Regions from separate parts of the Homo sapiens genome. Here region 1 is linked to region 2. Evidence: fine-mapped expression QTL. A gene starts in region 2. The other region holds a variant in brackets. All regions are shown on one strand. Distances are between the middles of the regions.

Evidence for each region. PIP is the estimated chance that this variant, and not a neighbour inherited with it, causes the effect. A credible set is the group of variants that fine-mapping cannot tell apart.
Region 1: its variant is the best candidate, but not a certain one, in a credible set for the expression of GZMA in whole blood (INTERVAL, PIP 0.72).

Annotation. Positions count from the first base shown.
Region 1 is chr5:55,127,941-55,132,940 of GRCh38, reverse strand. It overlaps CDC20B (cell division cycle 20B), which reads left to right. Exons shown (of 12, transcript NM_001170402.1): 7 at 4,324-4,520. Among named protein-coding and RNA genes, the nearest start is that of GZMA, 28 kb to the right of the region's middle. The variant G/A (reference allele first, on the strand shown) is at 1,935.
Region 2 is chr5:55,100,292-55,105,830 of GRCh38, reverse strand. GZMA (granzyme A) reads right to left here and starts at 3,185. Exons shown (of 5, transcript NM_006144.4): 1 at 3,079-3,185; 2 at 213-357. The coding sequence starts at 3,148.

The DNA.
Region 1 (5,000 bases), 27 kb before region 2:
TGTCCAGAAAGACGTTGTGGAGATATTTATACTTAAGCTGGGTCTTGGAAGATCATTAGAACTTGGAAAGGTATAGAGGAGAAGGACCATTTTTGGTATTGTTAACAGCATGAAGAAGGCAGGATGTTGGTAATTAAGATATTTAATGGCAATGAAGAAGATACATTGGGGACTGGTGAATAGGTGGGTACAGATTATGGAGAAAAATTCAAATTCAGAAATTTAGATTTGTTTTGGGAGTTGTTGACTAAGAGAAACATCAAAGGAAAATTCATGGCAGAGTATGCAGAATGCACTTAGTAGGAAAGAGCTGCCAAAGAGTAAAGGCTTATTTTTCCTCCATGAAGAAAAGAAATGGGATGAGAAATGAATTCATGATTATTCCAAGTTTTTGAAGCAGGAGAAAGAAGGGTGGTGTCACTGAGAAGACAGATTGGCAGAGGAGGTGATTTGGAGAGGAAAGACTATGCTTGAATATTATTTTAAAGGAGACAATCAGACATAGAAGCAGTTTGGCAGATTATTTGAAACGAATGCTGGTAGTTGAAAGAGGATGGACTAGCCCGTAGGTCAGATGATTATGATTGAATCCAGGAGCCAGTGTAAGCTCCCTAGATGAGGGAGAGAGGAGCAGAGGGAAGGGGTCTGGGCTCCATGGAATATCTAAAAAGAGGCATGAGCTGGAAAAAGAAAAATCCCTGAAGGGAACAGTTCTCTATCTCCCTATTCCTTCAGCTCCTTCTCCAAGAGAATGTATTGTCATGACCAACTAAGAAGGATGGATTTTCAAAAAATGTTAAAAAACTGTTATATTAAAAAGAAACAATGTTTGTTCCCATTTTTCCTTTAAGCCACAGCCCTTTTTCTTTCTTTCTTTTTTTTTAAACAGAGTCTTGCTTTGTCACCCAGGCTGGAGTGCAGTGGCTCACTGCAGCCTCCGCCTCCTGGGTTTAAGCAATTCTCGTGCCTCAGCCTCTTGAGTAGCTGGGCGTGTAGCTACAGGCATGTGCACCATGCCTGGCTAATTTTTGTATTTTTAGTAGAGATGGAGTTTCACCATATTGGCCAGGCTAGTCTCGAACTCCTGACCTCAAGTGATCCGCCTGCCTTGGCCTCCCAAAGTGCTGGGATTACAGGCATAAGCCACCATGCCCAGACGCACAGCCCTCTTTCTTTCCTCCCTTTGACAGTACAACTTTCAAAAGATCTTTATACTTATAATTTTCTATTTCTCTCCCCATATTGTCTCAAATCCACTCTAGTCAAGTTTTAAGTCTCATCATTCAATTGAAACTACTCTTCCAAACATTACCAAAGAACTCCTCATTGTTATAGCCAACAGTTACTTCTTAGACTTCATACCGAACCCTAACAACTATATTTGAGACAGCTGATCAATCCCTCCTTCTTGATATCCCACTCTTTTGGGTTTTGTCCAAGAGTGTCTTTTGTTCACTCTTTCTCATCCTTTTTTGCTGATTTGTGTTTCTCTTCCATTTCCCTGACCTCTAAATGTTGGAGTACCCAAGGCCTGTTCCTTGGACATCTTTTCTTTTTTTACTTCTGTTCTATTTTAATTGATCTTAGCTTTTTGGCTATATCTCTTTGTATTGTGTTTTGTCGTCATTTTTCTAGGGATTACAATGTAATTTTAACTTTCTTAGTCTACGTAGAGTTACTATTGTACACATCACACAATATATAAACATCTTGCAATCACATAGGTCTCTCAAAGTCCCCACTACTTTTTAGGTTATTGTAGTTGTCATGTGTTTGTTTGTTTGTTATTGTTTTTTGAGGGAGGTTTTGAGGGAGGTTTTCACTCTGTCACCCAGGCTGGAGTGCAGTGGTTCAGGCTGGAGGCTGTAGAGGCTTACTGTGGCCTCTACCTCCTGGGCTCAAGTGATCCTCCTGCCTTAGCCTCCCAAGTAGCT[G/A]GGCCCACAGGCACATATCACCATGCCCAGGTAATTTTTTGATTTTTTATAGAGATGGGGTCTTACTTTACTCCTCAGGCTGGTCTTGAACTCTTTGGGCTCAAGTGATCCTCCCACCTTGGCCTCCCAAAGTGCTGGGATTACAGGTGTGAGACACTGTGTCTGGCCTGTCATGCATTTTATATTTACATACACTGAAAACCATCCAATTGTAAACGTTTTAAAATTTAAAAAGTATTTAAATAGCTTAAGAGGAAAAAATGGCTCCTATGTTCACCCAAATATTTACCAATTTCAGTGTTCTCCTTCATTTCTGAAGATCCAAGTTTCTCTTTCATATATTGTCCCTTTAGCCTGAAGAGCTTCCTTTAGCAGTTCTTGCAGATCAGGTCAGTTGGCACAGACTTCTGTTAGATTTTCCATCTTCCAGTTGATGAGATTTTTGCTGGATATAGAATTCTGGGTTGAAAGATCCACCACTGCCCCCTACCCCCAGCATTTAAAAGATGTTGTTCCATTGACTGTGGCCTCCATGGTATCTGGTGAGAACCCCATGGTCACCTTGTTATCCTGCTTCTAAGACCTGACTCTACTTACACATATGTTAGATTTTTGGATATTATTCCACAATTCGCTGAGGCTTCATTCTTTAAGAAATTTTTTCTCCACATTCTTTAGATTGAATAATTTCTGTTATCTATATTCAAGTTTACTCTTTCCTCTATCACCTCTATCCTGCTATTCAGTGTATCCAAGGAATTTTTCAGATATTATATTTTTCCATTTTAAAGTTTGTATTTTGTGGTTTTTGTATATTTGATTTCCATTTTAGAGCTTTGTTTTATGGTTTCTATTTTCTTTACTTAGAAAATACTTTTGATTTTTCTGTTTATCTGTTAAAGCTTCATATAAAGTTTCATATAAATTTTCATTCATTTCATGTGTGTTTTTCTTCACTTCATGGAGAATATAATGGCTGCTTTAAAGTCTTTGATAATTTCTATACCTAGGTCACCTTGGAGTTTTCATCTATTGGTTATGTTTTGTCTTTACATTTATCCAGTAATTTTGAATTGTGTCTGGATATTGTAGATGTTATGTTATAGTCACTGGGTCCTGTGGAGAATGTTGATGTTTTGTTCTGGTTGATGTTTTTGTTCTAGTTAGGTTCACATTTTAAGTTTTGTCTTGCCATTTGTGGGTGGTGTTTCAAATCTTAGATCAGTTTCTTAAACTTTGACCATGCTGGTTTGGGTCTGTATCTCATACATGTGGATCAGAGCCTAGGCTGAGACTTGTATGGATGTTTCAAATCTCAGTTCGTTTCTTAAAGCCTTTACTAAGGTGATTTGAGTCTCTTCTGCATGTAGGTGATTTAGGGGTAAGGCTGAGATGTGTGTGAATTAATATACTCACACTCAGAGGATCTCTTTCTTTTGGCTTTCCCATGTCTAGGACTTTTCCCTCATACTGGTATCAGTTCTATGCCTCAGGCTCTTTTCCATGGTTTCTCTGACCAGAAATATGGTGGCCTTTTTGTCAGAGTCTTCGCTGGCACTCCATCAATGGGGCCTGTCCTCAGGGCAAAGGTGTGAAAGAAGAAAAGTGGGAAACTTACCCCCCGCCAGTTTGCTTCTCCAAATTTTGACTCCCTTACTTAGTTTACTGCTTTTCCTTACTTTACAGGATCTCCAGGTGTTTGTTTTTTATATTTCATTCAGAGTTTATATTTATCATGGGGACGGAATGTATTGTAGGGGTTTAAACTACTGTAGGGGAACTGGTGTGCTACTTAGTTTTATACTGATACGTGTCAGTCAGGAGTTTCTGACTGATAAGAAATAAGATAGGGTATATTTTAATAAATGGTCATACAAATATGTTTTCTCTTAGCAGTCAAAGGTTTCTTATTAGTATAAGCTATAGAATACTGTTGAGAACGTGTAGGTATCATACATGAACCACCACCTCTTCTAGCTGGGTGGTGTTTTTGGTTAGAAATGATGGTGGCATCTCCCATATAGATATCCTAGGTCCAAGAGTGTCTCCATAAGAATTATATGCTTTTAACTTTTACTGATCCGTTAAACGAAGTCTACATGTACTAATAATGGTAGATGAATCTGCCAAGTTCTTTAAATGGCTCTAAATAAATATATTTCAGTGTAAATAATAAGCATTATTGCTTATTAGACTGTGAGTGTTGACACTAGATTCTATTCCACTTTTCATTTTTGAACTTTTAAGGATTTTCATGGTTCCATGTTTCCATTTTCCAGCTAACCATGGGGATGGTATTATTCTTTTCCCCCTACCTATAAAGTTGTTTATTTGAACATGTTTTCATGTGGCTGTATAATTATACTAATTTGAAGTGCTTTTCTTATAGATCTGAATATCCTAGATTGGAGTTTTCAGAATCTTGTTGCCATAGCCCTGGGCTCTGCTGTATACATCTGGAATGGGGAGAACCACAATGGGATTGAAAACATAGACTTAAGTCTCACTTGTAACTATATCTCTTCTGTGTCCTGGATAAAAGAGGGAACTTGCCTGGCAGTTGGCACCAGCGAGGGAGAAGTGCAAGTACTGGCCAGTTTTTTTTTTTCTCATCATGTTCTCTGTGTATTATTACACTATAATTGACTTTTAATAACAAGTTAATGTAAAATAGAGAAACTAGGTGTGGCTCTTGAAGTATGGGGAATAAAAGGAGATGACATTCCGCTTTTTTTTTTTTTTTTTTACTGAATGGTTTTTAATGAAAACGTAAGGATACTCTGGTTAGTTTCCACCACAATCTTTCTGTCATATTTAAAAATATATTTTCTCTGAAACTAAAGTTGGGCTTGTAGAATCTCCAGTTTTGGAGCTTTGGAGAGAGGAAGATACTTTCAGTTCTCCTTTTCACCTGAAGCCGTGATTAAGAGTACAGTTATAGAAAATGAGTGAATTTTTTTTTCTGATAGGCTCCTTGAGATGGGGATTTATCAAATTTCCATCAATCTATCTGATTTCTCATGTATCATTATTATTGTTTATTACCAATAGAATAAACAATATCAC
Region 2 (5,539 bases):
CTGGCTAATTTTGTATTTTTAATAGAGATGGGGTTTCACCATGTTGGCCAGGCTAGTCTCAAACTCCTGACCTCATGTGATCCACCTGCCTTGGCCTCCCAAAGTGCTGGGATTACAGGTGTAAGCCACTGTGCCCGGCCTACTCTTTTTATTAATGTTTCCCCAAATTAGAGTATCTTTACAAACTTTTTTTTAAAAACCCAGGCACTTACAAGTTACAGTGAGCTGCAGTCAACACCCAGTCTTTTGCAATCAAAGCCCCAGCACAGATGGTTTTTCTGTCAAGACTAAGTAGGACCATGTAGGGTCTTGAATGAGGAGTTACTTCATTTCCTCCAATAATTTTTTCACAGACATCTGTTCAATGGAAAAAGACAAATCAGATTGGTGCTCACCCCCAAAGAGCTCTACACAAAGTCATGTTTCTAAGACCAGCCATGCTTTTTGCACTCAGAGAGGAAGTCTGGATGAGAGCATTTCCCCTGCTTTTACTCTATGTAGACCCGCAGACATCTGATGCAAATCCTATTCCTGTTGGACTCTAGGGTCCTGTTTTTCCACCCACAGAAGCGAGGCCATTGACTGTTCCAGGATCATTAGGCTGGATGTCACAAACCAGCAACCTCAGGCCCCAGGGCAGAAAGCTCTGCCTTGGTCTTTACCATCAACAGTTGCTGCAGGAAATGCCAGTGGTAGTGACAACCTCAAGTGCTCCCACCCTTTTTGGCTAACTATTAATTTGGGGGAAATAGATAAGACTTTTAGAAGCCTCATAACTTCCCTTTTAACCCCAAGCCATTGCAAAAATATAGCTTATGAACCGATATTAGCATCGTTTAGCTGTGACCCTACCCCTCAGTCCTTTGGTCATTATGAGACTTTTGGTTATTAAACTGCACTGTTCTCACTCATAAGTTAAGAAAATAACATCGATTGCACCTCCCCTTCAATCTCTAGACCAAACCATGGGGTTTAATCTAAGGTCTTTTCCAATGAGATAGGGAAGAGAAGAGAGAAGATACCATATGCCAAGAATTCTGCCTAAGTGACATTTCCTTGATGATAGTCTTGAAGTAGAGACCCATTGTTAAGGAACAGTGAGAACTAAACACAAGGCAAACCATACATGCAGATAGAGAGAACCTTATGTCTTAGTGATACACTCCGAGTGCTCCACCTCCTGCACCAGATGTTCTTGGATTCTCCCAAAATAGTTTTGCTGAGACTCATGGTTTCTTGAATAGGGCACAGTGCCTCTTGTTCCATAATTAGGACTAAGTCATTGCCAAATTCACAGGCAAGTATTAATGACAGCTATAGAAGCCTTTCGTAAGATTTGATGAGGGTAAGAGCAAGGAGGAGAGTGACCACATGAAATGTGGCTAGTGTGATTTGAAAAAGCAGAGGTCTCTGCTTTTAAAAAGGAAACTGGGAGGAAGAAATTCTAGGCTCTAGAAACAAAAGGGTAAAGAGCTTATAGAAACAAAAGACCTTCACCCAATCCCAATTTTCCTAGGGTGATTCATGTACAGATAGATTTCAACTGTGCCTTGCTTTGCTGTCTGTTCCTTATATGGGCCCACACTGCCCTCTCTGAACACAGGAAACAAAGAGGAGCACAGCAGGTTGCTTTTGTTGTTTTCCTTTGAAGAAAAGATATGGCTGGATTTATCTGCCCTGTGTTTTTCTGTTATGGAGGATTTAACATGCCTGAATATAGTCATACTATGCCCTGCTTATAACATAGCCAACCTTTGTCCCAAATGTCCTGCAGCCTTGTTATTTTTATATTTCTTCTCTCTCTCTCTCTTTTTTGTTTTTTTTTTGAGACAGAGTCTCGCTCTGTCACCAGGCTGGAGTGCAGTGGCACGATCTTAGCTCACTGCAGCCTCCAACTCTCTGGTTCAAGCGATTCTCCTGCCTCAGCCTCCTGCGTAGCTGGGATTACAGGCACGTGCCACCATACCCAGCTAATTTTTGTTTTTTTAGTGGAGACAAGGTTTCACCATGTTGGCCAAGATGGTCTCCATCTCTTGACCTTGTGAAACACCCACCTCAGCCTCCCAAAGTCTTCTCATATTTAGGTGCATAAACCAGATATGCACCTAAATATGATAAACCAGAGTTCTTTGGGAATTCCTGGCAAGGCAGGTTATTACATAAGTCCCTGCCTCCAAAAGCTGATGAATCCTGGGAAAAACCGTGGCTGGCTCCATATTGCCACAGCTTGAGAGTAGTCCTCACTTCCTAGCAGGTTCTTCAAGGGAAATCTAGAGCTCCCCAAGAGCTGTCACCCTTTCAGTGGTAATACCATGAATTATACAGCATTTTAACCCATGCATGCTCAACTCACACAAAAGCAGAAATATTGGTTACCATTTGGTAGACAAAAAATTAGCTTAATAAAAAATACTATAGCACACCCAAAGGGTTAATGAGGGAACTGGCCTCACGCCTTAATTTATTGCCAAAGAGTCTCTAGACCAGAGAAATAAGTATAAAAATTCTAATAATTCCTGATTCACTTTTGGTGTCTAGGTCAGATTTGTCTTAATTGTCTTTATCTATGCATTTTCTGCAGCAGGAAAGGCTGAGCTGACTAAGTTGCCACTATTCCTTTCCTGGAAGGTACTATTTGTTTTACGAACAAGAGAGTTTTGTTAACTCATTTTTACATTGTCCTTTTTGGCAATTTTCAAGTTACAAATTGGCAGCAATAAGCATTGGTGGTTCTGCTATCTTTTGCAAAATAATTATGAGAAGAAAAGATTTTTTTTTCTAAAATACAGACATATTTAAAATCCAAGAAAGAATGCTATTTAAAAAAAAAAAATAGAGACAGGGTCTCACTATGTCGCCCAGCCTGGACTCAAACTCCTGCGCTCAAGTGATCCTTCCACCTCAGCGTTCCTAGTAGCTGGGACTACAGGCATGTGCCATTGTGCCTGGCTAAACATTATAAGGCTTGGGGGAAAACATCTTCTTTCAGTATAGGAAGGTAATATTGCCAAAAGTTCATTGAAAGTCTGCTCCATTTTGCTTCATGGTCATAATGGAAATGAGAAGAATCAGTCTTACCTTCAGGAATTAGCAGGAGAGAAACGACAACTGAGAGAGAGGATGCCAGAAATCTATAGGAGTTCCTCATTGTGGCTGCTGTCCCACATCAATCAACCTGAAAATCTGTTTTCAGTTCTTAACTGCCTCTATCTATATACTGAGAGTAAAAAGGATGTGGTTTCCTTTCATTTTTTTTTTCAAGTTTCAAAGTTTAGCATTAGGAAACCAAATCCAAATAAGTGAGAATGGTGGATGATGGCTCACTGCCAGCAGGCAGGCTTTCCTTTGCTAGGACTGCTGAGGGGGGCGCTGGAATTCTACAGGGTAGGAGAGGGGCAAGGGACCTTGTTGCCATCAGAGTACACCAGGGAAGACTGTAAAGTGTCTCAGCTATGATTTTGAAGACGCTTTCATCATCTGCAATATTATCTGTAGTATCCATGACTGGAAACTCTCGAAGACTTAAATTAGAATTTTAATAAAAGTCCTCAAAATTGGTCACCAATCAAAATTCTTTCTAGCTGTCTCCTTGGGTTATATAAGAATTAGCAGGCCAAGTGCAAGCTGAGGACAGGAGGGAGATTTATTTACATAGAGGCTCCTGCCTGGATTTTCCTTCCCCACTTTGTGGTGAGTGTTTATTGTGCTCCTGCCTGGTCTGTGGCAGGTGTGGGAACATGGGCTGGAGGAGGGTAGGGGCTCTTGGCCCTTTTCAGCCCTCTGATTGTGCGTTCCTGATTGTCTAGTTTCACAACTTTAGATACTGAAAGTATCTCCGAGTTTCCCTCCCTCCCCGCCCCCCCCCGACCCCTGCTTCCTGCCTTTCTTCCTTACTTTCTTCTGAACAGGTTTAGGTGAGAAAAGAAGTGGGAGTCATTTTTGTTCCAATGTTGGGGAATGTCTCACTCTAAGAAGAGTCAACCTCAGTCCCTGGAGGAACAGTATGCAGTGTGCTTTCTATTTGAAATGAGTTCAGCTCTTTTTCTGAGCTGAGGATGTGGTCTCCGATACAATATACATGGTCAGATGTGCTGTCAGGATGTTGGGTACTGAACCAACCATCCCCATAGTTAACATCCTGATGACTTCAAACCTAGTGGTTACTTCTTTAGAAATCAAGTGACCTTAGAAGGGAGCCCTGCTGAGACCCCTGCATTTCTTTTTCTCAGATATTACAAGTGTATCAAAGGTTAATCATTTTCAGTAACAGCAGTGAGGACCCTGCTATTGGTTTTGGTGAGTAATTTTAGTGCAGACTTAAAAAAGTCAAATTGTAATTAACTACACCTACTGAAAAATTCTTAAAACATTGACAATTTTGTTTATTTTTATGTGAATGGTTGCTCTTCCATTTATGTTGACTTCTAACAACTTTATGAGACATAATTCACACACCATAAAGGTCACCCATTTAGAGTGTATGAGTCAATGGATTTTAGTATATTTGCATAGTTGTGCAGCCATTACCAGTACCATGCTGTTTTGGTTACTGTAGCCTTGTAGTATAGTTTGAAGTCAGGTAGCATGATGCTTCCAGCTTTGTTCTTTTGGCTTAGGATTGTCTTGGCAATGTGGGCTCTTGTTTGGTTCCATATGAACTTTAAAGTAGTTTTTTCCAATTCTGTGAAGAAAGTCATTGGAAGCTTGATGGGGATGGCATTGAATCCATAAATAACTTTGGGCAGTATGGCCATTGTCATGATATTGATTCTTCCTATCCATGAGCATGGAATGTTTTTCCATTTGTTTGTGTCTTCTTTTATTTCGTTGAGCAGTGGTTTGTAGCTCTCATTGAAGAGGTCCTTCACATCCCTTGTAAGTTGGATTCCTAGGTATTTTATTCTCTTTGAAGCAATTGTGAATGGGAGTTCACTCATGATTTGGCTCTCTGTTTGTCTGTTATTGGTGTATAGGAATGCTTGTGATTTTTGCACATTGATTTTGTATCCTGAGACTTTGCTGAAGTTGCTCATCAGCTTAAGGAGATTTTGGGCTGAGATGATGGGGTTTTCTAGATATACAATCATGTCATCTGCAAACAGAGACAATTTGACTCCCTGTTTTCCTAGTTGAATACACTTTATTTCTGTTTCTTGCCTGATTGCTGTAGCCAGAACTTCCAACACTATGTTGAATAAGAGTGGTGAAAGAGGGCATCCTTGTCTTGTGCCAGTTTTCAAAGGGAATGCTTCCAGTTTCTGTCCATTCAGTATGATATTGGCTGTGGGTTTGTCATAAATAGCTCTTATTATTTTGAGATACGTCCCATCAATACCTAGTTTATTGAGAGTTTTTGGCATGAAGGTTGTTGAATTTTGTTGAAGGCCCTTTCTGCATGTATTGAGATAATCATGTGGTTTTTGTTGTTGGTTCTGTTTATGTGATGGATTATGTTTATTGATTTGCATATGTTGAACCAGCCTTGCATCCCAGGGATGAAGCCAACTTGATCATGGCGAATAAGCTTTTTGATGTACTG